Homo sapiens: one gene and its partners. The protein of the gene in region 4 interacts with the protein of the main gene of each other region in a pairwise test. Each region holds a gene or a part of one and is shown on either strand. Other genes may lie near its edges. The genes, in order: STARD13, TRPC4, EPB41L1 and ITPR1.

The links.
Region 1: the proteins of ITPR1 (region 4) and STARD13 interact in a two-hybrid assay, tested with the Homo sapiens proteins (one study listed by BioGRID and IntAct).
Region 2: the proteins of ITPR1 (region 4) and TRPC4 interact in a two-hybrid assay, tested with the Homo sapiens proteins (one study listed by BioGRID).
Region 3: the proteins of ITPR1 (region 4) and EPB41L1 interact in a two-hybrid assay, tested with the Homo sapiens proteins (one study listed by BioGRID).

What each region holds. Positions count from the first base shown.
Region 1 is NC_000013.11:33,275,732-33,282,759, reverse strand, and holds part of STARD13 (stAR-related lipid transfer protein 13), read left to right. Parts: intron 1-1,425; exon of another isoform or gene 1,426-1,731; intron 1,732-3,103; exon of another isoform or gene 3,104-3,299; intron 3,300-5,063; exon of another isoform or gene 5,064-5,206; intron 5,207-7,028. UniProt on the Homo sapiens protein: GTPase-activating protein for RhoA, and perhaps for Cdc42. May be involved in regulation of cytoskeletal reorganization, cell proliferation and cell motility. Acts a tumor suppressor in hepatocellular carcinoma cells.
Region 2 is NC_000013.11:37,740,759-37,747,786, forward strand, and holds part of TRPC4 (short transient receptor potential channel 4), read right to left. Parts: intron 5,698-7,028; coding exon 5,179-5,697; intron 1-5,178. UniProt on the Homo sapiens protein: Forms a receptor-activated non-selective calcium permeant cation channel. Acts as a cell-cell contact-dependent endothelial calcium entry channel.
Region 3 is NC_000020.11:36,206,733-36,213,760, reverse strand, and holds part of EPB41L1 (band 4.1-like protein 1), read right to left. Parts: coding exon of another isoform or gene 5,981-7,028; intron 5,461-5,980; coding exon of another isoform or gene 5,353-5,460; intron 4,274-5,352; coding exon 3,863-4,273; intron 1,490-3,862; coding exon 1,385-1,489; intron 425-1,384; exon of another isoform or gene 385-424; intron 1-384. UniProt on the Homo sapiens protein: May function to confer stability and plasticity to neuronal membrane via multiple interactions, including the spectrin-actin-based cytoskeleton, integral membrane channels and membrane-associated guanylate kinases.
Region 4 is NC_000003.12:4,671,335-4,678,362, reverse strand, and holds part of ITPR1 (inositol 1,4,5-trisphosphate-gated calcium channel ITPR1), read right to left. Parts: intron 5,228-7,028; coding exon 4,976-5,227; intron 4,162-4,975; coding exon 4,020-4,161; intron 3,296-4,019; coding exon 3,115-3,295; intron 1,750-3,114; coding exon 1,562-1,749; intron 1-1,561. UniProt on the Homo sapiens protein: Inositol 1,4,5-trisphosphate-gated calcium channel that, upon inositol 1,4,5-trisphosphate binding, mediates calcium release from the endoplasmic reticulum (ER).

The DNA of each region.
Region 1 (7,028 bases), on a different chromosome or scaffold from region 4:
CCATTGTGCCCTGTCACTAACAGCTTTTAATCATTCCATTAATCATGTGCAAATAAAATTAATGACAGCATTATTTTCTGTAGTTTACAGGTTAGTATCTTAAAGTGACAGCCACATCACTAAAATTGTTTGCATTATTCTACTTTAGAGCTTTAAGATTTAGAATTATGTTAATTTGATTTAAGACATCATTACTTATAATTTCTCATGGTTGTTGGGAACAGTGGAAACAAGTAAGTTGCTCCCCACTGACCTCATTATAGTGAGATAATCATTGAATGGCGTGCACATGATTCAATAGCAGATACACTCATGGGGAGGAAAAACAAGGAGGAGAAATAAAGGAATCTTTGATGATGCATAGAATCAGAATTCATTATCCAAACCCAGGATGAATCTAAACTTGCTCATCTTAGGGTACACATCAAAACATACATGCATCATTTCTCTAGCCTGTTTTTTAGTTCTGGGGTTGCAATTCCATTTCAAAAGAGAGGAGATGTTTAAAAGAGGGTGTTGTTTTGCAGAGTGAAAGTTTATCATAAGTCATACTGCCCATAATCCCTACCCCACATTCTTGCTTGAATCAATAGGGAAATTGTTGTAGAGAGAGAGAATGGAAATAAGAATGGTCCTTATTTGCCTCACTGACTGGCGCTTGGGAGTGGATAGGAGAGAGGATGCTGGGGGTGGTGGAAGACCATGTTAGGCCAAGGAAAGGGAGAATTGGATTTTTTTCTAATTTTTTTTATTGTGGTAAAATACACAATACATTAATTTTGCCATCTTAACCATTTTTAAATGTATGGTTCAGTGGTACTTAATACATTCATAATTCATAATATCCAACCATCACCGCCATCCATCTCCAGAACTCTTTTCATCTTGCAAAACTGAAACTCCATACCCATTAAACAAGAATTCCTCATTCCTCCTCCTCTCGGCCTTTGGCAACCACCATTCAACTTTCTGTCTCTATGAATTTGACTACTTTAAGTACCTCATATAAGTGAAATCATACAGTGATTCACTTTGTGTGACTGGCTTATTTCACTTTGTACAATGTCTTTGAGGTTCATCCATGTTATAGCACATGGCAGGATTGCCTTCCTTTTTAAGGCTGGATAATATTCCATTGTATATCTATACTACATTTCACTTTCTGTTTTTTTATTAGTAGCCATCTTAATGGGTGTAAGGTGGGAGAATTGGATTTCTATGTCATTATTTGATGGTTTTGATTTATTAGTTCTACATCATTATTTGGTGGTTTTGATTTAGTGCAACATGATGGATGCACCATGTTTAAAGTCTACATACACACACACACACACACACACACACACACACACATATTTGGAAAACCCAAATGTAAGTAGAAACATAAATGTGATTGCTTGCTTTGTGAAAGAACTTATCACACTATTATACTTTTTATTTTATTTTAAATGCTTAGAAAACAGCATAATCCGGATTGCAGTCAAGTCCACTGAAGTAGGATAAGGAGACAGGCATCCAGGCTCTGTATAGAAGCTCCTTCGCTCCTTTACAGCGTTGAGTTCCAGAGCTTCACTGGACCTTTGGTTTTTGATGAGACAATGAAGTGGATGGACTATGATTGCTCAAGTTTATTCTGTGTCTCAGGTTCTGGAATCCTCTCTGTGGTTAAGTCAGCAACTCTTTGAACAGGATTGTAGAAAGCAGGGGAACATAAACGTAACATACTAGAACCTAAAAAGGCAACAGAGCGGCTTTATTATGTGGAATATATCAGTGGCTTACAATTGTTCTACAGTTTCTCAAGGAAATGGTAAAGTGGAAGTTAGGTTTTTGTTCTACCTCAGCAACTAATTTATTGTGTGATCTGAGAGAAGTCACAGCTTCTCTAGACCTTTTTCCCTTCTTCCATTAAATAAAGGGTTTGGATTAAAGAATCTCTGAAGTCCCCATCATCTCTACATTCTAGGATTCTGCAATCACAAGTATTACCTTAAGACAAAAGCAATGCATATTTACATTTTTCTTATTATGTCATTCAGCATATACCTGGACATGCTTCCTTGAAACCTGTGTCATGCTTTCATTAATATCGATGTAATAGGAATGTTAGGAAGTCCAGTCTGTTGAACTATTTAAATGTCAGTATAACTATAATTATACAGAAACTTGTAAACACCTTTCTTTCTCCAAAATCCAGGCCTGTAAAGTGGAATTGTCTTGATGCCTGACCTATAGCAAGGATTGCAGCTACTGAAGGAAGTCCGTGTGTGTGCCTCTTACCTCACAATACAACCTCTTTCTTTTCTTGATAGAAAATGTGGAATGTAGAAAGTTTCACTACCGAGAAAGTAGTGAAAGTTAAACTGTCATTTGAGTTGCCATTCTATCTGAGGCTATTTTTAAGTAGATATGGCACCTGATTTGAACTCAACTGGAGTGGGATATACTGCCTTTTAAAAATTTCCCCAGAGAATGCCAGTGGGCATGAGTGATGTATTCCCCCTCATTACTATGTCAAAAGGCATCTTGGGAATTTGCCCAACCTAAGTGGTGAACATGGCCCATCCCCATGGCCCATACCCCCAGCAACTGGGTAATGTCAGCCTAAATTAAGCAATCATTTGTTCTTTTGGAATTGCCCTTTCTCTATGTTTAGTACTTTCTTGCCCGACTACTTTCAAACCTGGAGGGTGAATGCACTGGCAGAAAGACAGATGGAACACAGGAAGCAGGCTGAGAATGCATCAGTCATGTATTGCTCAAGTTCTGTCTGTTTGTTTTTTTTTTTAAGAGTGGCAACTGTCATAAATTCACATTTCATGAATCAGAGCCTCTTTCTACTCAGTGCTGGTGTTTGGAGGGCCTGTACAGAAAGGATACTGTTTAACCAAAATTACAGGAAAATCTGCTAAGTGAATTAAATTAACTAACTTTGACTAACATTTTAAAAATTACTACATAGTAAAACTAAAAGAAGTCAAGAAATGAGTACTGGGAGGAAATTAACAAAAGGACAATATGCTTGTAAACATATAAAACTTGAGAGTTTAACTTTAACCAAATTGTAGGTTCAATAGCTACACATCATTGCTTTATAACTCACACATTGGCCAGGGTGGCCAATCCATTGGAGTTGCCTGGAGCAGCACATGACACAGTAGCACAGGGTGTACAGAGATGGGTATTTGCCTTGTGCCTTCTTCTGTGCCAATCGTCCAGGAGTTACTCTGTTGGCAGAATGTTGAAACTTCTGTTGTTCAGATGCAGACAGTTGCCAAATTTGGGTTCTGTAACTTTAGCTTAAGTAAATAAAAATTCATTTTTTAAAATGTCTTTCCCTCTCCCACCTTCCCCAATCATCAGTGCTTTAATTCTTAGCAAATTTTGGACAATGGTCAACTCTTACAATGCAAAATTCCTCATTTCATTAGCAAATTAATCATGAACACAGAAACACAAGTTAGAAAAAACAGTCACTGCTAGTGGTCTTAATAGTATCAATTGATGACCTAAAACAGATTTAAAAAGAGAACAAATGATAAGTGGGTTTTGGCAAAACTCTTATATAAAGGGACATAAATAGATGGAGATTTAGTGGAGACATGTCATTAACAAGAGTACACACTTTCTCTGTGTTTCATTAGCTATGACAACAGGGTAGTGAGGCAATCAAGAAGACTTAAGAAGATAGGAGAACCTGAACATGCATTGCACACCAGATATTTGAATGATCTAAAGACCACATAAAAAATATTTGCCGTCTCCCTTGGAGCAATTGAAATATGATTTTGGTATGGGGAAAGATACTATATATTAATTTACATTCCACCTCATTACCTAGAGGATTTGAGGTCATTTATAGAAGAATATATAACTAAAGATTGCAAAAAAGATAAATCTGATGAAAAGAGAAATGTTGGCCAATTAATGAGGTAAAACTAGGAAGATATATCACATGGAAATATAAAATGTAAGGCCTTGAATAATAATCAAAAATGGGCTGCAAATTTGGCTTGAGCTTCCCTGATCTAAGCAAAGAGGAAAACACAACCAAGGGAAGATTTTCCCTGTTCTTAAGGTAAGAACTTACCAGCCAAGATTTTCCTGGGACTTGCTCTTTGGGAGAATTTTCTCCCAAGAACTTGACCTATGAGAGGAATTTCTCATACAAATCTCATAAAGGGAACACTGCAAGCTATAGTGAATGGTGCCTTCAACCATGCCTGCTGTGAATTCAGTAGTGAGTCTCATTTCTTATAACATCCTGCAGTGGAAATGGGGGCGTCACAATAAATTATAGTCCAGTAGAAATATTTGGGTGTGGGTGGGTGGGTAGGTAAAAACGAGAGGTCAGGTATGCAGTCTTCAGATTCTCTGTCTTAACCTAGAAATAGCATGGAGATTATCCACAGGCAATTTCTATAAGTCTGCTTCACAGAACACTAGGCCCATTAGACAGATATTCAAGGGAGAAAACATTTCTGTGGTTAAGTCATTTTTGGAAATGCTACATTCCCTTTCCCTTGGAAATTCAGACTTATGAAAGGCTCAGGAAAATCTTGCACAAAGTAGTTTAACTGTGTTTAAACTGGTATATTTCATCTTGAAACCACTTTTCACAGGATACTGGGAAGTCACATATTGCAAAACCAGCTTTCCCTGGGGAACACATTTTGGAAATGCTGATCTAGGAGAGTATGTGGCCTACGCTTCCCTTAGATAATTCTCTCTGAATATACTTCTTGCATAGATTTGGCAGTAGATACTTTGAAGTTGTGTTTTGGAGAGGAACATTGCAAGTATTCTATGTTTTCCAAAAAGGCCAGCCACAAATACTTTAAAAGTCAACTGAGTAAAGGCCAGATGACCATCTTTTTATGAAAATTAACAACCACACAAAGATTCTATCTTGGGTAGGCAGAACAGAAAGCTGAGTCGGTATATGGGTAGAGTTAATAATTATAACATCAAGAATACAACCATTCCTCAAATAACTCTACAAGATAGGTACTGTTGAGCCAGAAGGAAGAAATTATTGCCTTCTAGCTCTGGCTTTGTCTTACCATAATGTAGTTGAAGTCCTGGGTGAGGTCCAAATGGTTCTAACATTAATGTAGCTAATTCAGGATATTCCATTACTGCTGGGAAGTGGAGTCACTGCCCCACAGGAAAGAAGCAAGAAACTCTTCAGAAGTCTTAGAGTCTCCTTTGCCGTGGGTGACATGGGATATGGACTCACTGAAGCTCAGGCACTGATGGGTGGCTCCGAGAATTTCTGAATTCATGGTCCAAAAATATCTTTGGTTATATAAAGGCTCTCCTAGTATGACAGAAAGAAGTGAATGAAGTAAAATTATGTAGATAATTCTAATTAGTAAAATCTGCTTGCTTTAGTTATGGAGACAACTTATCAATTTCCAGGAAGTCTACAAATATATTCTTCAGATGTTTTTCCTCCTGCTGGCAAAGAGATACACATTAGCATTCACATTATGAATGACGCTTCTGGAGAGAAATCACACAACATCCAAAAACTCCAACAGAATGCATAGGGAATTACCATACTGCCTAGCCCAAGCCGCCACACTGTGAAGTCACTCAAGACCATGGTGGTCATTCTGGACTGGTGCAGTCTAGGGAAGGACCAAGTACCATGAAAATTTATATACTACTGTTTGAAAAGACATGAATTCTCTCTCTTTTTTTTTTTTCAGAAGCTTAGGATCTAAAATAATCTAAATGGAGAACTTGGAAAATAACTTCAAAATTACAGAAAATGCTAATGCTGTTAGCAAAAGAAAATCAATAGAAATAGATCTACAGTGTCTGGCTAGACTGTCAAATGATTTTCCTCACACAGCATAGGAATCCTGAGAATTTTAAAGGTCTGACAGAGGCAGAGCTTACTAAAATACAAATGATTTGTGTTGCTTTGCCTCCTAACAGTTGGATAAAACACAAGGGCGAAACAATGCAGAGAGATTGGAAAGGAACTTGGCAGTCACCAAGTACCTAATTTACATGTCAGGATTTCGAGCTGAAGTAGGCATTCTCTTCCTGCATTCCAACTCTCCCCTTCCTGCTTACTTCTGAAAATCATACATATGGACAGCAGGAACCTTTGATTAGTATTCAATCTCTATGAGTGAACAGTAGCATTTCATATACATTTATATTCACCAAACGACACACTGGATACAAAAAGTATGTATAGTCATAAAATCACATTTTCCTCTGAGAGTTATACCACCCTGAAATTATGTATAATATGTAAAATTATTATAAGAAATAAGAACGATTCACAAATCCTGCGTTAATGATATTCCAACGATTCTCACTCAAATAGACGGAGTTCTTATTTGAGAAAATTAAAGAATCTTCTCCAGATGCTTTGAGGGACACAACACATTTCCCACTACATGCATTTCTCAAAATAGAGTGTGAAATCCATCGCAAGGCCCTTACTGTCTGGACTTCTGTAAACCCATGCGTTATGTTTAACAGGTTCTTAATCATCAAACCACCTTCATTTTCACCATTGGTCTCTTTCAGATAGGAAAGTCTACTGACCTCCTTCCCTGAAAATTTGGATCCTCATATTAGCATTCCATTCCACTTGCTGTACTTTTAGTTGGAAGGTCTAAGGCAGACAAAGCTGCTTAAATATTTTTATCACTGACTTCCTAGAAGAAGGAGGAAAAAATCTTGGCAAGAAGAAGGGAAATCAGTCTTGCAGAATATCTTGAAGAAGCCTGCGAAGGAATTCCACTGACTGTGTTCATTATCTATTGGTCCCAATACTGAGTGGAATTTTTATGTGTTATCACTGGCCAGGGTGGCCAATCCATTGGAGTTGCCTGGAGCAGCACATGACATGGTAGCACGGGGTGTACAGAGATGGGTATTTACCTTGTGCCTTCTTCTGTGCCAATCTTCCAGGAGTTACTCTGTTGGCAGAATGTTGAAACTTCTGTTGTTCTTAGGAGCAAATAATTGAAACATGTTGGTTGAATTTCAAGACACCTTTT
Region 2 (7,028 bases), on a different chromosome or scaffold from region 4:
TTAAGAGAGCTTTAAAGAGCTGTAATTGTGGAACATTTTGAATCAATTTAGTTTACCATGCCATGGATAGTGTCTGATTGACATGAATCTCTTCACATTTTCTCCATTCCCCCAAGACTGGATAAACAGAAGGTTAGGAGGTCATGAGCAGCGGGCTGTTCAAATGTTGATTTTTCTCCTTTAACAATCCCATTAATGTGTAGGACGAAACCCAAATTAGTTCCAAAATTTAAGCTAATGTTGCAAAGCTGCTGAAATACCTTCATGAAAGGGAAAGGCAAATTAAATATATTGAAAAGCTATAGAGAGTTTGAATTGTAATGTTTTTAGACAAATAATCTATTTCCTTGCTTTTTATTTTTATTTGACATCTAGGCTACTCTACCTTTTAATTACTTACTTCACAATATTGTCAATCATGTAACAAAAACTACGGAAGGTCTTTGCTGTAAAAAATAGTTAAGAAATGTATTAAGCTTCCAATTCACATTTAGTAATCTTACAAATATTAGGCAAGAGGAATGACTACATGGAAGTAATTTTAACTGCCACAGACTCTGCATCTGCAAAAATCATGCCAGAAACCAAGGGACAAGTTTTTTGTCTAAGACATGTCCTCAGTCGTCCTCGCCTTTATGTTACACACAGGGCAAGAATCAGTTTTAAGGGTATGACTACATGCTTTTTGTTTCCAGTTTCCTTTGTTATTATTCATTTAGATGATTGGCATCGGGATGGGAGTGCTTGGTCAAGGGAGCAACCTTAAACCTTAAACCTGTCCCATCGCAGAATGGTACTTGAAAGATTATTGTTTGACACAGAAACGTAAAAGTGGAGTAAGAAAGAAAGGGAAAGTAGGCTTCACACTCTTTGGAGAAATCAAGTGCTTCATCACAACGTGAAAGCAAAGAAAACTTCATGTCAAAATGCAAGGCTTTCATTACGGGCGAGCTGAGTCATGAAATAAATTCATGTGCTCAACAAAACTAGGCTAGCAGCGTCAGTTTTCTCAGGTTTACCCAGTGTTCAGCAGGATGATGTCTGGGTGGAGGCAATATGGTGTGATGGTTAGAGCCAAGTTTTTGTAGTTAAGATCTGGATTTGCAATCTGGCCCCAATATTTAACAGAGTAACACTGCACATTATATAACCCTCTGTGACTCCGATTTTTTCATGAAAAAAAAAAAACAGCAACAAATAGTTCATACTTCAGAAGTGTATTTGGAGGTTTAATATAATAAACCATGTAAACAACTTAACCCAGTTGCTAAAATACATTCATTTGAATTGATAGAAGATGTTTGTTCTGCTAATATATGATCAGTACAATTGCAGCATCATTAGCCTAGAATTAATAGAAGTAATACAATTCTTCTTTCTATGATGCTGCTGCTTAGAAAGAATATATAAAATGAAAATGTAAAAATATCTATGGCATGAAATTAACACAGAGCTTTCTCTTTGGATGAGATTAGAGAAGTACCAGAACAAGTCTGCAATCAAATCCTGCCAACATTAATTGTTTTAATATGTTGATTCATAAGGAATCTGTTATTAGGAGATTAACCCAAATAGTGCAATTTATTCAGGCAAAGAAACATGCAGGGAACCATCCAGATCTAAGAGCATCTGTGACTTCATTCAGGTGCATTCATTACTGAGCACCTTCTGTATGTCAGGGGCTACAGTATGACTGGTGAGTAAGATGGATGTGTTCCTGACACTGCCTAGAGGAGGAGATGGAAAAGTAATAACACAATGCAATATAGGGTGTGTATAATGAGGACATTTATCCAAGAGAGTCTATGGAGGGGTTTGCTTCATAGAATGCTCCTGCGGTGAGACAAGACGTGAGATGACCTTTAAAGAGTGTGCAGGACTTAGCTATGTGAATGAAGGTTAATGAGAAAGCATTCCAAATCCTGAGAGATGGACTAAAGATAAATCTCAGACTTATTTAGACCAAACCAAGGAAAACTTTTGGTAAGAAAGATATGAAGCAAGACATGCTAAAGCAGAATTTTCTTTAAGGCACATGATCTTACTAGAAAACCTTTAATATTTGAATTTAATAATTTCTGAATAACCTAAGAATACATGCGGTAAAACACAACTTATGATTTTAAAAGGTATATATGAAAGTAAAATGTTATTCCTGAATTTTTTAAATAATGCTATCAGTTATCCAATGTTATTTTGCTTTGGGAAAATCTTCAATCAGAGAAAAATATTCTCTTTGATAGTAAATGCAAGATACTCCAGAACAACTCTGTAAGAATTTCGTTTTCATTTTTTTCTCCATTGAAATCTCAAAACATTTTGAAAGGAAAAAAATCCCAATACAATGTCTTTTAAAATTGTATCTTTTGGGGAGGATTGCTTGAACCCAGGAGTTTGAGATCAGCCTGGGCAACATAGCAAGACCCCATATCTACAAGAAAAGTGTCTTTTAAAAAATAGCACCAATTCTTATTTTTTTGTTACATGCTATATGTTTTTTGTTATGTTTTATCTTGTATTATTAGGCTTTATCACCCTTCCATAACTTCATATTAGCAAGAATACAAACATCTTGAGAGAAGTGTTGGAAATTATTAAATGCCTTCCATTGCTTTGCTTCTTAGATACTGAAGATGGGATTAGAGTTATGGCTTTTTCATAGGTTTTGACATTGAAACCACTTTTTATATTTATAACATATACAGAAGAACATAAGCAAAGAAAACACGTTCAGTAAGGAAGAACATTTTTAGTGGTTCAGGAACAAAATGGAGAATATATATTCAATGTTTCATTGTCTCTCCTAATAGGCTATAAGCTCTATGAGAGCAGAGACCTGACACCTGGGAATCCCAAGTGCCCCGTGCATTTCCTGGAATGTGTTCTATGAAATATATGTTGAAACAGTTATTAAGGAAATTAATGCATGACCAAAGTGTATTAATTACTTTGCAGGTAAAAATATAAATATAAATATGCAAGAAATTCAAATTACAATTTCTATCTCGAACAACTCTTTGACAGGAATTTGGCAGCTTCAGTTAATGCAATATCATTGACAGCATTCTGTTATGAGGATATGGTAAAGGAGTTTATGAGTACTTTGTTCCCAGGCTTTCACAAAAGTTATTGTGGCCAAAGATGACGTTAAATCAGCTTCAATGCCATGACCAAAATGAGTGCAGGCAAAAAATAAATCTGAGTTCATTCACTGGCTGCAGAGAGACCTAAAGAGCAACAGGTGAGCAGAGCAGGCTGCTTCTGCATTCTCTGTTTCATTTCATGAATTGTACATCTTGGGAACTTTACTCCATTCAACATTTGTAGGATAATATTAACAGTGAACAGCTATGGCATAAGAGAAAATCTTTGCAATCATCGTGTCGATTCTTTAAACCCCCTTCTCCAAAGAAAAACTAAAGAAAGCAAAGCATACTACTGTGCTAATATGGATCTTTAAGAAGATTTAGGCCATATCAATATTTCAATATCTTTCAAGTCTAAAGCCTGCAATGACTTCTTATCTTCCCATTTACCACTTTGAACATCTTTCATCAATGTATCTTATCATTGTGTAGTAAAATTACTCTAGTTTCTTTAAAATATTAGATCTCTGAGTCCAAAACATAAAAACCTAAGAAAATGAGTTAATACTGCTGACAAGGACTCAAAATAGCAAATGTGATTTTAGAGTTAGAGGGAATGGACACAAAAGAAGCTGTTCACTTCAGTATTAAGGGAAAAGTTCATTTCACCTTGTTTCAGGCTTCCATGACAACCAGATTAGCTTAACTAATCACACAACTAGAGGAAAAAATTGAGAAAGCAAGTTCAGGTATCTTGAACCTTGAGTATTTAGTGAGTAGCAACAGACAAAGCAGCCAGGGCTTATATGGGATCATTAAGGCCAAATTCAAAAGAAACTGAGTACATTTTACAATTCAGAAGTCTTTCACTTTTTCTCTTTCTCTTTTCATCTTACATAGCATTTCCAAGTATTGTTCTGGAATAGATAATTACTATCATTTAAGAGTGAACAGAGAACCAATATTTTCTTCAGATAGATGTAAACAGTCTTTTGAGAACTCACTCAAACACAAAGCAATTATGCTGGCTGATTAAGGGTAAGAAGTATGAGATTCTGTTATTTAATACAGCATTTTTAATATATGGAAATTTTACAAGAAATTTATTACTCCCTTGCGATGAACTTACTTGGTTTCTTATTCCTGACAAATCAAAAAAATGAGCAAGATATGAGAAAAGTTTTAGTACTTACATCTGCTATTGTACTAAAGTCTTTTATTTTATTAACACTTTATAATAAGTATTTACTGATATAAATAAAACAATACCATATAATTTACTAAGAGTCTTCACACATCCACATATTTTACACTTCCTAAAAACCTGTGAGGAAAATGTTGTCTATATATACAGTTGTCCCCAAGCATCTGTGGGGGATTGGTTCCAGGACCTCATGTGGATACCAAAATCCATGGCTGCTCTAGCCCTGCAGCAGTTGGCCCTACGGGACCCATGGATAGGAAAAAATCAGCCTTCCATATCTGAATGTTCCACATCCTATGAATGCTGCATTTTCCATCCACATTTGGTTGAATCCAAGGATGCGGAACCTGCAGATACAGAAGGCTGATTATTTATATATATATATGCGTATATATATATATATATATATATATATATATATATATACACACACACACACACTTATATATACGTATATATGTATATATATACGTATATATGTATATATACGTATATATATATATATATAATTTCAAATATTAAATCCATTCAGCAGGTGAGAATACTGAAGCTTAAGGAAATCTATCTGTGACCCCCTAAAGTTACAAGACTTATAAATAGCAGAGCCAGAAATCTCAGTCTGGACATACTAAAATTCATTAGTTTTTCCATTATACCACAGTCAATGTGTACATTTTAAGACAGAGGCCAAAAACATCAATTATTAAACCATTTATTACCACTCTTCAATGTGATTCATAATTATTAATCCGGTAGACAATAAATGTCATCCACTTACAGCTGAATAGAAAATGCTCTAAAACCCAAAACTAATTTTGTGAGTAGCAGTTTGCTTCACTGTGATTAAACTCTATGGCATTTTGATGGATCAAGTCTGGCAACACTCACCTCTTTTTGACGGTACTTAATGGCCAATTTTAGTCTTGCAAGATCATTTCCACTTTGTTCTTCTATGAGACTATTGTCATCTCGGTAATTAAGAATGATTTCCAGTTCTCTGGAACTTCTCGTCTGATCCAGTAGGTCCTTAGCAAATTGTTTGCACTGCCGTGACAGCTCTTCATACTCCGACTTGAATTCATTTTCCACCTTGCTCAGTTCCTGAAGTTCCCAACTTAACTGAAAGGCTGTGAGAAAAGGATCTTCGCTTGACAGTGCAATGAGAGAGGGACTGGCCAAGGCCTTGTAGATGTTGAGTCTGGAGCGTGAGTGACGGAGGCTGTCCACATCTGAACTGGACACGCATTCCACACAGTTACAGCGGACCTCGTGGGGTCGAGGCACTGAGACTCCTTTCTGAACCAAGAGTTTTATTATCTCATAATTATTTGTATGGGCTGCCAAAATGATTGGTGTAATGTCTGGAGTGAATTCAGAGAACTGCTTATCAAGGAGTATAGGAGGCACCTAAAAAAAAAAAAGGCAGAGGTGATGAATATTTATTCTTTTGTTCAAGTCTGTGAATTTCATACACCATGCTATAGCAATATGGAACAGGGTTTATATGTCCTTGGCCGGGTTTTTTTTTTTTTGTAGGAGAGATATGGTCTTTTCCCCTACAAAAAGACCAGACAAAATTGGAAAAAAAAACTTTCCAATATGATGCATTATTCTTTTTTTAATCTGAATTATGACATTTTACAGCATCTTAAAATAGGTGGTTATGGAAACTCTTTACTTGATGAATGTCTTTATTTCTTTTAAATAAGCCCAACTTATTTTCCAGCTGACACTATTTTCTTTGCTTTCTCAGAGATGTTGAGGTCCAAAATAATCAAGAAATACACTCAAAAACAGCTAATGATTTGTTTTAAACCCAAGCTCTTTCTCTGCAGTAGAAGTCCTTTAATTCCTCAATTAGGTTTTGTCTTTTGTTTGTTTTTACTGTGTTTTAGCTTCTGCTTTCCTATCATTCAGCCTAGTGACTAAATGTGGCAGCAAAAATAAGTGGGCTGGCCTCATGCTTCCTCTTTTCATCTGTGCTTTTCTGGTATATTTTCCAGATGACAAGAGGTGCTCCATAACTAGCATTACTGTTTTATTAGAAATAAGCAAGCATTGAGTCGAGTCAGCAGTGTGAATTCCACTGAATCAGGTCACCAATGTGTTTATGCACGATTTCCTTTGGGTTATACTCTAGGGATGGTAATGATGAAAATAATAATAGCCGCCATTTAGTAAGCATCTGCCAGGTACATTAACCCTCACCCTTTATTATTCACATTTTATGGATGTAGTTCCTCAGTGAGTAAGTGGAAGGTCTACAATCTGATCTGCAATTTCCACATACTTTAAAGACCTTATATAATAAACACAGGTTCACCTGTCTGACACCCAACCCTGAGTGAATTGCACTGCACTATGTTGCTTTAGCACTTTTAGTTTATTTATTTTTGCTGGCACAAAGCCATAGAGGCATTTATGAAAAGTTAATGCTACATAAGGGCAGTTAAACAGGCATGGCAAAAAAAAATGATGACTCACGTCACATTGAAATATGCTGCTGGAAAAATGAAGGAAACCACAAAAGGATCAGAGGAAAACCATATGGAGAAAAACGACACTCATGATGACACTTCATTAATGCTACTTTTAAATATAGGTACATTTTTATATGTGGACAATTACACACATTTTAAAGTCATCTGGCCATATAGGATATCCATTGGTTTCATGAGAAACACTAAAGATAATAGGAATGAAATTATCGATTTAAAATATCCTTTACAGAGGTATGC
Region 3 (7,028 bases), on a different chromosome or scaffold from region 4:
TATTATAAGAAAAATCCCATTTTGTTCTGCTTGAATTGTATAACTATAAACTTTTTTTGTTGTTTTGTTTTTATGTCAATAAGGGTTACTGGGCTGTGGGATCTAGGGCCAATTTTAGTTTCTTTATACTTTTCTGTATGAAAACACAACAGAAACACGTGTTACTAAAACAAAACAGGTCAGTGGGGGAAGCAGCTTGCCCAAGGTCACACAGCTCATCAGAACTCAAGAGTCCTGACCTGTAGTAGACGGCCTCATAAACTCCTACCATCATTATAAAAGTGGGAGAAAGAAATCTGGAAACAAAAGAATTGCCCATGTTGTATTGGTTTATGTCTTATTTCAGTTTTCTCTTTCTCTCTCTTTTTTTCCCTGTCACCCAAGCTGGAATGCAGTGGTGGAATCATAGCTCATAGTTCACTGCAGCTTCGACCTCCTGGGTTTTAGTGATCCTCCTACATCAGCCTCCCGAGCAGCTGGGACTACAGGCATGTGCTACCATGCCCAGCTAATTTTTGTATTTTTTGTAGAGCTGGGGTCTCCCTATATTGCCCAGGCTGGTCTTGTACCCCTGGGCTCAAGCGATCTGCCTGCCTTGGCCTCACAAAGTGCTGGGATTACAGATGTGAGCCACTGTGCCTGGTCTTATTTCAGTTCTTCAGGAAAAGGTTAGTCTCAGAGCAAAAAAGCTCCTAGCATTGTAGCTCTTCTGGCCAGGAAAAACCAGGAGGGCATCTATCAGATCCTCAATCTTAACTTCCTAAGTTTAAAAAGCATGGAAGGAGTGCAGGGAATGGACTGGAAGTCGTGGGCCTGTGCCTATGCCTGACGGCTTTCTCCAGGTGGTCAGGATGCTGCTTCTTGTCAAGACACATGATCTTCGGTTTTCTTCTTTCACTTTGTTCATTTTACTGATCTGATGTGGAACTCTAATGCATAAAAAATGACCCAAGGTGAGCTATTCTGACTGAAGCTGAATTGGGATCTCTCCCTCTTCTCTCCTCAAGCAGCCCCTGAGATACCTCAAGAAACCTCTCCAACTCCTCCAAGCAATGTGAACACCAAGGTCCCAATCCACTAGTCAGTACAGTCCTCCCAATATGCCCAGGAGGAAGGGGTAGACAGGGTCATTCCCATTTTATGGATGGCTAAATGGAGGCTTTAAGAAGTATGGTCTGCCCAGGACAGGAACCTGCTTTACCCGTTGCCCCTCCCCAGAGCTCAGAGAGGACACTGAGGCACAGGAGAGCATCAGGATTAACATATGGGTTCCAGGGAAGCTGAGATTAAAAGAGCTGGCCAAGGGGTTTGGCCACAGCAGTGGGGACCCTACCACCAAATGCCCAATACCCATGCTTAGGGTACATTGGAAGGCACAAGTTACCTGGGTGTTATCCATAGCGGAGACTCTGGTCTGCAGTACGGCCTCCGGCTCAATCTTCTTTCTAATGGCCAGACTGCTGACAGTCATGGTTTCTGTTTTCACGGGCTGTAGGAAAAGGAGGGAGAATGCTCTGTAACTGAAACCCTAGCATGACCCTTGCTCACAGACAATTGCAGTGTGGTGTCTGCAGGCTATCTCCTATCCCCACAGCTGGCCACATCTCTGGAAGGGTACTCTGGACAGGGTAAAAGAGTTGTGGTGTGATATCATAGACAGATAGCCCGCGAGGAGAGCCAGGACCACCACCAGGACCAGGCAGGCCTGCCCTGCGCCCCTGTGCCACACACCCTCATGGTGGCTATATGCTGTTTTTTAGGCTACTATTAGAACATCTACCATTTCATTAACATACTCTATGACAGGCCCTGGGCTAAGTGTTTTCCTTGTGTACATAATGTCACCAAATCCTGGTGAGCTCACCACCTCTCAGCCGCTTCAGCTGAACTCTTCTATTTTTTTTCTTGAGACAGACTCTCCCTTTGTCGCCCAGGCTGGAGTGCGATGGTGCGATCTCGGCTCACTGTAACCTCTGCCTTCCAGGTTCAAGCGATTCCCCTACCTCAGCCTCCCAGGTAGCTGGCACTACAGGCTCATGCCACCACACCCGGCTAACTTTTGTATTTTTAGTAGAGACGGGGTTTCACCATGTTGGCCAGGCTGTTCTTGAACCCCTGACCTCAAGTGATCCACCTGCCTCAGCCTCCCAAAGTGCTGGGATTACAGGTGTGGGCCACCGTGCCCAGCCTGGACTCTTCTTTAGAGCAAGAGCCACACATGCTTGGAGGCCTACAGCATCCAGGCAGGAGATGTCAATGAGTGAAGAGGGTTTGTTGAGGACTGGGGTGAAGTAGAGAGCATGTGGGGTCCATTTGGGTATGGCAAGCTGTGACTATGACCTCTGAGTATAGTTTTGTTTTTGTTTTTGTTTTGTTTTTTGAGATGGAATCTCGTTCCGTTGCCCAGGCTGGAGTGTAATGGCGTGATCTCAGCTCACTGCAACCTCTGCCTCCTGAGTTCAAGTGATTCTCCTGCCTCCCGAGTAGTTGGGATTACAGGTGGGTGCCACCACGCCCAGCTAATTTTTGTATTTTTAGTAGAGACAAGGTTTCACCATGTTGGTCAGGGTGGTCTTGAACTCCTGACCTCAGGTGATCCACCTGCCTCAGCCTCCCAAAGTGCTGGGATTACAGGTGTGAACCACTGTGCCTGGAGATTTTTTTTTTCTTGTTTTGTTTTGTTTTTAAGAGACAAGGTCTCACTCTGTCGCCCGGGCTGGAGTGCAGTGGCACGATCAAAGCTCACTGTAGCCTCGAACTCCTGGGCTCAAGTGATCCCCCTGCCTTCTTGCCTCAGCTCCTGAGTAGCTGGGATTACAGGCACAAGCCACTGTGCCTGGCTGAAGGGGATTCTTATAGATGGTTGCAACCCTGTAACCCAGCCATTCATCCAGTTAATCATCTATTAGTGCCTAGTATATGCCAGGCCTAGAGGAGCTGCCACCTGGTGGGAGAGCAGGCTTGTCAGCCACTGACCTGACCGCTTTGGATAGTGCTGGAGCATAGGCATTACAGGGCAAGGGGGTAGGGGGGCGATATTTCTGCCCAGGGTGGTCAGGAAAGCAAACCCCTGCTAGGAAACTGACATTTGAACTTGGTCCTGGAACATGATAGGTTTGTAAGGCACCGAAAGGGAGAAAAAAAAACCTGCTCAGAGAATATAGCATGAAGTGAGAGCCCAGAGTGGCTAAGCTCATATTTCAATGCCAGGAATGTTGGGGAAAGGAGAGTGTAGGAGGGAGGTTGGGTCTAGAAGAGATGAGGGGGCAAAGGAATGATATGGGCAGGCGTGCCTTAGAGAAATCCCTTCACAGCTCTACAGAGGAGACCACAGAGAGGCCCAGAGACAGTCTGTCCCTCCTCAATGACCACATTTCCTCTCTTCCAGGAGCTTCCATTACCACCCTGAGACCCCAGGGCCAGATGGATTTAAACTGCTTCCCCTTCCCCGGGAAGCCCAGACCCCAGAGAGACAAGCCTGGGCCCGGATCAGGAAAAACCATTCAGCTTTCAGACCAGGCTGCAGGAGCCCCCAAGAGTCCACAGACGCATGCTCTCTGCAGGTGCCATGCAACACAGGTGGGGGGGCATGGGGTCAAGAAAGACCAGACTACCTGTCATCGCTCGACTTCAGCAAGCGATGGGGTCACAGGGTTAAAATACCAAGGAGCGCGTGTTAGGGGTAAACCGAGATGGCAAACATGCGAGCACAGAACCATGCTGTTCTGCGGAGGGGCAGTCATGCAACACGAGACAGAGCTTCAGGCTGCAGGCTGGGTGCTCGGTCTTCTCACGGGTGGCCCAGGGCCCTCTGAGCATGCGGTGCCCAGCGGGCCTGGCTCTTGAGGAAGCTCCACTGTACCTCAAACTGGGGCATATCCGGGGTGGAGCAGGCCCCTCGATCCGGGCTGTCCTCAATGCCCCCAGACTCATCATCCTGGCTGGGGGCCCCCTTGTTGAGATCCCGGGAGAACAGCAGGCCCTCAGTGTCCGAGTCGCTTTTGTCCCGGTCGAGCTCAGGCAGGCTGCGGGAGAAGTCTTCGAAGGCGCTGCCATGGTAGTCACCAATGACCGTGAAGTCCACCTCAGCCTCCAGGCTAGACGTAGAGCTGACCGTGATGCTGGAGCACTTGCGCTCAATGGCCAGGTGGTTGTCCTTCAGGAACACCGTGTCCCTCTCCTGGTCCTGGTCCTCATCGCCTGTGTCACTCTCTGGGGCCCGGGGACGTGGTGGTTTGACTTTCTCCTCGGAGCCCTCCCTCAGCCCTGCTCTCTATGGCCAGATAAAATCAAAAGAATGGGGATGTGGGGTGGGGAGAGAGAGAGAAAGAGAAATCAAGATGGTGAATGTCAGGAGAAATCTCGGGGCTGTGTCGACATCCTGAATGGAAGAGCAGGCCAGGAAATGAAAAACACCCCAGGAAAGGTTCCTTGAAATCATAACAAGCATAAAAAAAACAAAAACGACTCAAGAGTGGAGATGCCCCTTTCTGAGGGTCTCACACTGATGGCAAAAGCAAGTACAAAGCAAACGTCCTGCCAGTGACTCCTGGACAGGAGGCTCCATCCAAGGGTATTGGATCTGGGAGCTTATTGGAAGCAGCATTGCACGAAAGGCAGGGATGGAAGCCCGGACCCCAGGCCCATCCGTGCAGGTGGGCGTTGAGAAACAGAAACTAAGGAGGGAGATCCAGGGATTCAGGGAGACCCAGGAAGGGAAGGCAGAGAGGTTGGAGCCAAGAACTTTGAGGAACAAAAGAGGAAGCCAACATGTTTGTCAATTCCACTGAGTCTCCGGGGGAGGGGTCAGCATCGACTAGAGAGAAGAGCAATTCAGGGTCAGGCCTTTTGGGCACGAGCTTCTTGGGAGCTGAGTGCTACGCCAGCTCCACCCTGGGCTCCATGAGTGGACCACAGGCAAGTCAGGGAGTAGAGGCTCTGGTCCCATCAGTGTAATTGACAACAGCGGGCCAAGGCAGTGCCTCGGGGAACCAGCAACTCTTGTCCGACATACATACCTCTCAACTGGCCTGTCAGGGATTAAACACCACACACACATTTTTGGCTGGTTCATAACATTCTTTTTAAAGACCAACCTAATACCCATGAAAGATTTGTAAAGAACTTGGCTTCTGGTTCTAGGGATTCAGTGGGCTTAGACATTCACTTGCTAAGCGAGCCTCCATTTAGCCAGTTTCTGGAAGGTTGAGAGGTGTGAGGGAGACATTCCAGACAAGCCAGAGTTGAGCAGCACGAGAGGTGCTGCCACAGCAGGTGGGAACCTAAGGCGGCGATGCATCCTGGCCGGGTGAAGGTGACTGGGTCATCAGGGCACAGAGGGGCTGCAGAGACCTGAGGGCCCGAGGGGCTGGCAAATCTCAGGCGCCCCCCCTTCCCAGGGGTGTTGGCTGCTAAGTTGGTGGAGCGCTTCTCTTCCCTGACCGCATCTCCGGATTTGTTCTGGATTAGAGAAGACAGTTAGTCTTAAGGAGGCAGAAAGAAACTTGGCACTGGGACTGAGAGGGAACCAGAAGTGAAGGATGGAAACCTCTGGACTGTCAACTTTCCCAAGGCGGGAGAACCAGGGATGGGAAAGGATGAAGAAAGATCGCTGGACAAGCCAAGCAAGGTAGGCAGGAACCCAGCGGGTATGAGCGGCAAGGCAAAGCAGGTGTGTCATTTGCTGGTGGTGGCGCCACCTTCTCCATGGGGGTTGTGTGACCCTCTGGGCACCAGGTCACACCAAAAGCTGAGGGTCTTTGTGGCCAAGCTAACATGGGCCAAGCAGAGAAGCCCATCATTCAGCCTGAGCTACACCCAGGCCCGTTTAGGGAAAAAACTCACAGGGATGGATAAGCAGCCTCTGATTGCAGAAATGACGAGGGGCCACTGAAACATGCTTCTAAAAACTACAGAGCATGCGGCCAGCCCCCATGGGCGGGGAGCAGCGGTGGGGGCGGGGGCTCACGCGGCCAGTTACCCCAGTTCCAGTAGCTTCTGCCAGCGTGGTTTCACAGCCTGAATTGGGGGACACGGGCTCTAGTTCCGTGTGTGCTTCCTGGTAGGATGCAGAAGTGTCCTCCCTGAAGTGTCTGGTAGCCAGAGGTATCACTGTGGAATGTGTGGCTTTGGGGCTGGCAAAGTCCCCTGGGGGCTGGAGTTGGGCGAAGCCCAGGTCTGAGAGCGTACTCCGCTGCTGCTCTGCTTGTCCCACGGGTGCCTCTGAAGATACGTCATTTGGAAGGGACCTTGCTTCACCCTCACTCATTCGGCGAGTTTCAGCTCCGTGGGTCTCAAATATCCGAATTTTGTTGGCCACTGAGGTCTTGCTAATATCTTCTAGGGAGCCCTCTTGGTCCCCAGCCTGGAAAGAGGTCATCTCCCTTCGCTTCCCTGAAGGGAACCCAAACCCCAGAGGTATGCGCCCCTCAGCTTCTTCAGGGACTACTCTGGGCTTTCTGCTGGTGATGGGAGGAGGCCTGCGCTCACCTCCTGTGGCAGGGGACACCACAAACCCTACTTGGTCCTTGGGCTCTGGGCTGGCTTTCGAAAGATGGACATGTCTAAGAAAGGGCTCCCTGAGCTCCGAAGGCTCCCCTGACCCATGGGAGGTTGGGCTTGGAGAAGCTTCCTCCAGAGCTGCCAGGTCCTCAGAATGACCAGGGGAGGCTGGCAGGGGAATGATCACCTCCATGTGAAGAAATGCTGAAGCCTCGCGGTCCTTCAGCTCAGCCCCTCCTTTCTGGGTGGGAACCACTCCCCTCTCTTTGGGTGGGAAGTTGCCTCTGTCTGGTTTGACTGGCTTCCTGACATTCAGAGGGATGGCCCGAGGAAGGGCGCAGGCCTGGGGGTCGGGATGCACGCCCTGTCCTCTGTGAGGAGGGTGCTTCTTCAGTTCCTCTGTGGGACTTTCCTCAGCCTTTCCCAGCAAATCTCCACTCACGGGGGTCCCTTCCTCTCGGGCTGCGCTGGCTGTCAGGTGGGGAAACTCTCCTTCCACTCCCCACTGGGCATCTTCCCAGCCTTCA
Region 4 (7,028 bases):
TGGACCATGGCCTGCAAATTTTATATGTATATTTTGTCTCGACAAAAAAAATTGAAAATAAAAGTAAAAATAAAATTTATTAAAAAATAAAGTTTTAAAAAAGGAATCTTTCTCTACTGTTGCTCAGGCATAAATTCAGTAAGATTTCTCCTTTACTTAAGCTGTCTTTATCGTCCTAATTACATGACTTTGAGACAACCCATTAAAACTTTCAAAGCATTGGTAAAGGGTGATTTCAGACTAAAAAATAAAACCCCCAGATCTTAAACATTTATGAATTTCTACTACATCTGTTGGGGTTGAGATCAGGCAACATGGGATAAAAAAAAAGAAGGTGCTAACACATAATTCTTTCCATTAAGGAGCAGATGATTTTGTTGATGAATAAAAGTTACCTACACGGCACAGAAAGAGGGAAGCGCAGGTTGTCGGGTGGGGTTCAAAGCTGTAGAGAGGCTTGGGAGGGTTTCATGCCTACGACCAAGCCTTCCCTATATACTAGATTCCACCCCCGCTTGCCTACAGAAGGACTTTGCTCTTACAATTATTCTCTCCCCAAACAGCAACAAACTCTCCCTGTATACATGATCATTCCTATTCACCATACAAGCTTGTTATAACCCACCCACTTAAAAAATATTACAACAAAAATAAACCATGTTACCAACAATCGCTCTCTGCCCATGTCCCCACTTCTCTGTGCATCCTTACAGGCAATCTGTCCAAGAAGCTATATATATTTACTCCCCGACTTGATCTTCTCCCATTCCCTCTTGAACCCCACCTGTTCCCAAATGTGCCCTCTTCACCATGGGGTCTTTGTGTTTGCTGCTCCCTCTGCCTCAGATACCCTTTCCCAAGATATCTGTGTGGCTATCTCCTCACTTCATTCAGGTGTGTAATCATGTCACTGTACTGGAGAGGCCTTCTCTGATAACCTCACCAAACACAATAACCCCAGCCCCCTGTCCTCAGTGTCTCCAAACAATCCTGACCCTCCTTTACTTTTTAACGTCTCTTAGCACTTATTCTTAATACATGCCCATGCCCCTCTATCAAAATGTAAATTCTAGAGAAGCAGGAATTTCATCTATTTTTTTCATTGCTGGACCCTCCCAGTGCTTAAGGGGACTTGGCACAGAGTTGGTCTCAATAAATATTTGTTGATTGAATGAAAAAGGGAAGAAGGGAGGAAGGCTTTGCAAAGTTGATGGAACCCTGAACCTAGTTATGATCAATAAGCAGAGATGCAGCTACATGGAGACACAGAGGTAAGTGAATTCTAGGCAGAGGGTTGGCATGGAGGCCAATGATCATGGAAAGCTAAGATAACAATGGCAAGTCTTGACATGGCTGGAGGGACATGGCCATGTTGGGAGGGTAGGAGAAAGCAGTAAAGGGATTAAGAGGAGCCAGCTCATAAATGACACGGAGGGATGAGCTAAGGATTTGCCCCCATTTTCTTCCCAGAAAGCCTTGGGCTCCATCAGAACAGAGGGACTGGATCTGAATGGCGCCTCTGTGACATACCCTCCCTACCCCAGCTCCAGCTAGTGGATACCTGGAGTATCTCAATGATCTTCAGCTTGGTGTCCATGACCATGATGTCCTCCTTCTCAGGCTCTGCCTGCTTCACATTGCCTTCAGGGGCAGCAGCCATGGGAGTCATGGGCAAAAAGCCTCCTCCCCGGAGCACCACCTGGGTCATCAGCTCTCCCACGCCATGAATAGATCTCATCACGTTACTGCCTAGGAAAGGCCAGGAGAGACCACGGTCACAATGTCTCTAGAGAATGCTCAGAGGCATATGTCAAGGGGCAGGGGCTCTTTGAGAGAAATTATTTAACATATCCCTATTCCAACATAATCTCAGGACCCTGGAAACCTGGAAAGGTAAATGCACATCAAAAATCTGGGCTTCTGAGAGCAACAGAAAGATCACGGGCTTCAAAATCCCCAGAGGGGCATTTCTGTGCACTAACTTGCCCATCAAATTTTATTTTTTTTAATTTTCTTTAGAGACAGGATCTTCCTCTATCACCTAGGCTGGAGTGCAGTGACACAATGATGGTTCCCTGTGGCCTCAAACTTCTGGGCTCAAACAATCTTCCTGCCTCAACGTCTCAAGTAGCTAGGACTATAGGCATGCATCACCACACCCAGCTAATTTTTTTTTTTTTTTTGGTAGAGATAGGTTCTCTCTATATTGCCCAGCCTGGTCTCGAACTCCTGGCCTCAAGCAATCCTCCTGCTACAGCCTCCCAAAATGTTAGTATTACAGGTATGAATCACTATGCCCTGCCCAAATTTTATTGATCATCAACTATGTGCTTGTTATGAGCACAGAACTAGGTACATAAAGTTAACAAGGTACAAATCCTGATGCTGCTTGACCTTAGGTGCACCATACTACCTCTAAGCCTCAGTCTCCTCATCTACAAAATGGAAATAAAGGAGCTCAACAAAAGAACTAAATGGTATAATGCAACATGACTCAGCACAAGACCTAGCAAATAGAGATAAGTCAATGTATTTCTTTCTGTTCTAGCTGCAGAAGACCAGTTAACAATAATTGATACATGATACCAATATCTGCCTACTCTGACCCTAAAACGAGGAAGAAATAAACATGCAAAGGCAGATTGTCCTTCTCACAAAGTGGAAATAGCCACCAAGATAGAAGCCTGGATTTTCTTACATCCTAAACAAATATTATTATCAAGGGTCTCACGAATGTCAAGAACAATGATAGGACATGTATTTGTTATATAAACATTCAAAGTGTTAAGTAACTTTCAAATTGTTCAACAAAATATACACACGACTCATACATAAACACATAAATACAAAATAAAATACACATAAATACACATAAATACAAAATAAAATTCAGCAAAACGTGAATAACTGTTGACTCAAAGTCATGGGTACGTGGGACTCCATCGTACTGTTCTTTCCGCTTTTCTTTACACAGTATTTGAAAATGTTCACGATGAAAAGTTGGGAAGGAATGAACAAAGAAAGGATGTGGCATCACATATAGGGTATGACATGAGCATAACAGGAAAGGCTGGAGGGCATCTCTCAGATGTATGGGCACCCTCAGATACTCACTCTTCAGCTTCTCCACATCATTGTTACCTTTATTCTCTTCTCCTTTCGCCATCTTGCTAATGGGGAAGATTGTTGTCACATGTACACAGTCCAATATGGCCAGAAGGATCTTAGTTAATCGTAGAAGGTCAGAGAAGTTGTAGAAACCAAAGTATATGAGATTCCTAGCTAAATTTACAACCTATTGTATTAAAATAAAAGAAGAAGACGGTATTACATAAACTGCATCCCCTTCAATTCCATTTGATGTTGACCAGTTTAGAAATGACAGACTTGGACCTTCCTTATGGTAAGAGAAGGCATGTATTTTCCTTGCACTTTCTGATAAATTTTCATTTTGTTTCATAAGGAGGAAAAATAAGAAATGGAAAGCTACTGATCTGCTCTGATGACTAATCAAAAAAAAAAAAAGACCTCATCATTTGCTCTACACAGCTTCCCAAGGATAATATTAACACCAGGCAAGCAGAGTTATTCCCAATAAGGACACAGATAATAACACTCTGCGATCCTCAGCAATACAGCTCTTAAAAGGCAAAAGCAGTCTCAGAAACGTTGTTAACTCAGAAGTAACAAGGATTTATGTTCTGCAAATGATTAAGCTATGGCAGATTGCAAGCACAGTGTTTCTCTCTTGTCAGTTTTAACACAAAGTGATGTTCTATCATTTTATGTGGTTCAAGTCACCTTGTATATTTCTTTTAAGCCCATAACTACTATTAAGCCATGTGACTGGTATCCGTTTTATTTTATTCTGGAACAAAACCAAGCTGAATTCCTTTCCATTACAAAACCAGAGCATCATGACCAAAATCACAACCTACTCACATATTTTCTATTTGCCCCATAGAAAAATGACCACTGAGAGGCAGATAATACACATAGAAGATTTCATCATGAGTTACCTCAAACGTAAGCTTATTCTTCTCTTTATCAGAGAAAGGGAACCTCTGACAAACCACATCTCTTAAATACTCCTCCACAAACTCCATGGTCTGAGCAAATCTCTCCTTAATTTCATCTTTGGAAGCTCCACTACTATCATAGCTGAAAAGAAAGGAGAAAGAAAGGAAACAAAATTTCAAGTTATTCCCAGAGAGGTCTTCCTGGGTCACTCAGCTTCAAAAGTCAACATCCCCTAACCCTTGGCATCCCTTGACCCTACTTTATTTTTTCCCTCCTTAGCATATATCACCAACTATATATTTGAGTCGTTTATCTTGCCTATTGTCTGTCTTCCACCAACTAGCATAGAGATTGCTTTCTAGTTTGTTCACTGATATATTTCTTGAGCTTGGCACATAGTACACACTTAAATATTTGCAGAATGAAAGAGGAGATAAATGAGATATAAAAAATACAATCGGGGCCAGGCGCGGTGGCTCACGCCTGTAATCCCAGCACTTTGGGAGGCCGAGGTGGACGGCTCACAAGGTCAGGAGATCGAGACCGTCCTAGCTAACACGGTGAAACCCCGTCCCTACTAAAAATACAAAAAATTAGCCGGGCGTGGTGGTGGGCGTCTGTAGTCCCAGCTACTTGGGAGGCTGAGGAAGGAGAATGGCACGAACCCGGGAGGCAGAGCTTGTAGTGAGCCGAGATTGCGCCACTGCAGTTCAGCCTGGGCAACAGAGTGAGACTCCATCTCAAACAAACAAACAAACAAACAAAAACCAAAAACATAATCATGCCATCTTTCACATTCTTGAGGAAAAAAATATTTGCCATCCACTTAATTTTATTTTAAGCTTGAAGAAAAAACCAACACTTCATCTTTCTTCTAAGATTTAATGAGACCATATGGGGCTATCTACTGCCGCACAGAATAATGTAAAGTGAGGTTTTCAGGTGCCAGGCTCACTCGTCAATGGCGATCTCCGAGGGAATCTCCGACCAGAGGCGGGCATATTTCACGGGGGTGACTTGTTCCTGGGGATCTCGGTCCACATGCATGTGAAGCATGAGGCGGCAGAAGGACGCCCTGAGGTCATAGGGCAGGTTCTCGTCAGACATGCAGCGGAGAATGAGATCGACATCCAGCTGGCCTGAGATTTCGTTGATGGCCAGGTATTGGCGGTCCAGACACATCCTCGCAAAGAGGTTCAGCTGATATCTAGAGGAAGGAACAAGGGCACACAGCTCACGCTCCAGAAATCATTCAGGATGAATGAAGGGTCGTCTGGGCAGCCCTGACTGTCATGGGAGTGACATTTGGCCAACTAAACTCATACATCAACACCCCTAAATTGCTCTTGTATACCAGGATTTTGGCTTTGGTACCAAGCAGATAAAAGAACTATTCAAGCTGTGCAGTAGAGTGTGGGTTGACAGCCAACAGGAACACATGTCTATCCAGCTGTGTTGGAGCAATTATGTGACGACCTAATTCCACTAGGTCCTTAATGTTTACTTTTTAAAATAAACGGGGGGAATGCTAAGGCCTAAGATGGTTGTCTATTTCTTTCCCTTCAGCTGTGTTTTATACAGTAAAGACCATGTAGGAAATGTTCAAGATATCACACATATTCAGCCTAATTAGAAATTTTATAACATTTTAAAGATCTTATATCATGTAAGTCACTCTAATTCCTACACGTGTAAAAAAACATTTCATTTACAAAAGTAGGAGACTCCTCACTTTTCATCTTCATCCAATTGCAAGTGAATGTTGTTAACTGGAACCTGACCAATTAAGGCACTCTTTCTCATTCACTTGGGAGAAGATTCATCAAACACTGAAAGAGTAAACATACTTGAAATGTGAAATAACGAGAAAGCCACAGGCTTTCAAAATACTGCCTTCTGAATTAAAAACTCTATGTATTTCTAATAATCATGATTTGAAGACATTCTCAGCCTCATTAGATGTCGGGGAAATGCAAGTGTAGACATGAGTCTATTTCACACTTATAAAATTACCAAAAATTAAAAAGCATCATGATATTCAAGGTTAACAAAGACATGAAGAAACAAAGCTTGTCGTCTACAACTGGTGGGTGTGTACACTGACACATCCAATTTAGAATTGCTTAGTAAAGCTTAAAATATGAATATCCTCCAAGCCCACCTCCCAGTGTGGAATGGAAATTCATACATATACTCAGAAAAATTTGAATGAAGATGTTTCCTGACATGAAGAACTGCAGCATGTGATCAAATATCAAACAGCGATGAAAATGTGATAAATCAATAAAACAGAATATCATCCAACAGTCCAAATTACAGAAATGGATTAATCTCTATTAACGCAGATATATTCAATATGGCTTCAGTACCCGTATTGAATAAATAAGGCAAGTTTTAGAATGGTATTTGGAGTACAGTCCCATTTATATAAAATTTTAAGTAGAGATAAAATACTACATATGATTTACAGATGCATACAAATGCAGCACACAGAGAATGTGGATAGGATGCGTACATCACACATGAATGAAAGAACAGAATACAGGAGGCAAGAAAAGGCATTTTATCTGCAGTTTTATTTATTTTATTAAAAAATAATAAAAGCCTTGCTTTATCTTCCCTTTCCTTTTCTTTTAAAAGTATTAATTGGTTCACTTCCTTTCTTTCTTCCCCTTCCCTTCCCTTCAGGTGGCAGGACTGGCAGGTCTTACAGCTGGAGCCAAGGAGACACTGGGGACCGTGGAGGTGGGTGGCAGAGGTGAGACAGGTACACACAGGGAAACGGGCAGATGGGTAAACATACAGGGAATCGTGGCAGCTGGAGGGAGTCATGAAATGGAAAAGGTGAAGGCTAGAATAAATCCTATGGTGTTGGAATGGAATTGGAAGTATTAGTGTAAGTACATGCTTTTTATTATATATTTGTGTAGTTATAGAAAGATACATGGATGAATGTGTAGATATATGTGTATACAAACACACACATCTTCTGTCTCTGTCTATAAACA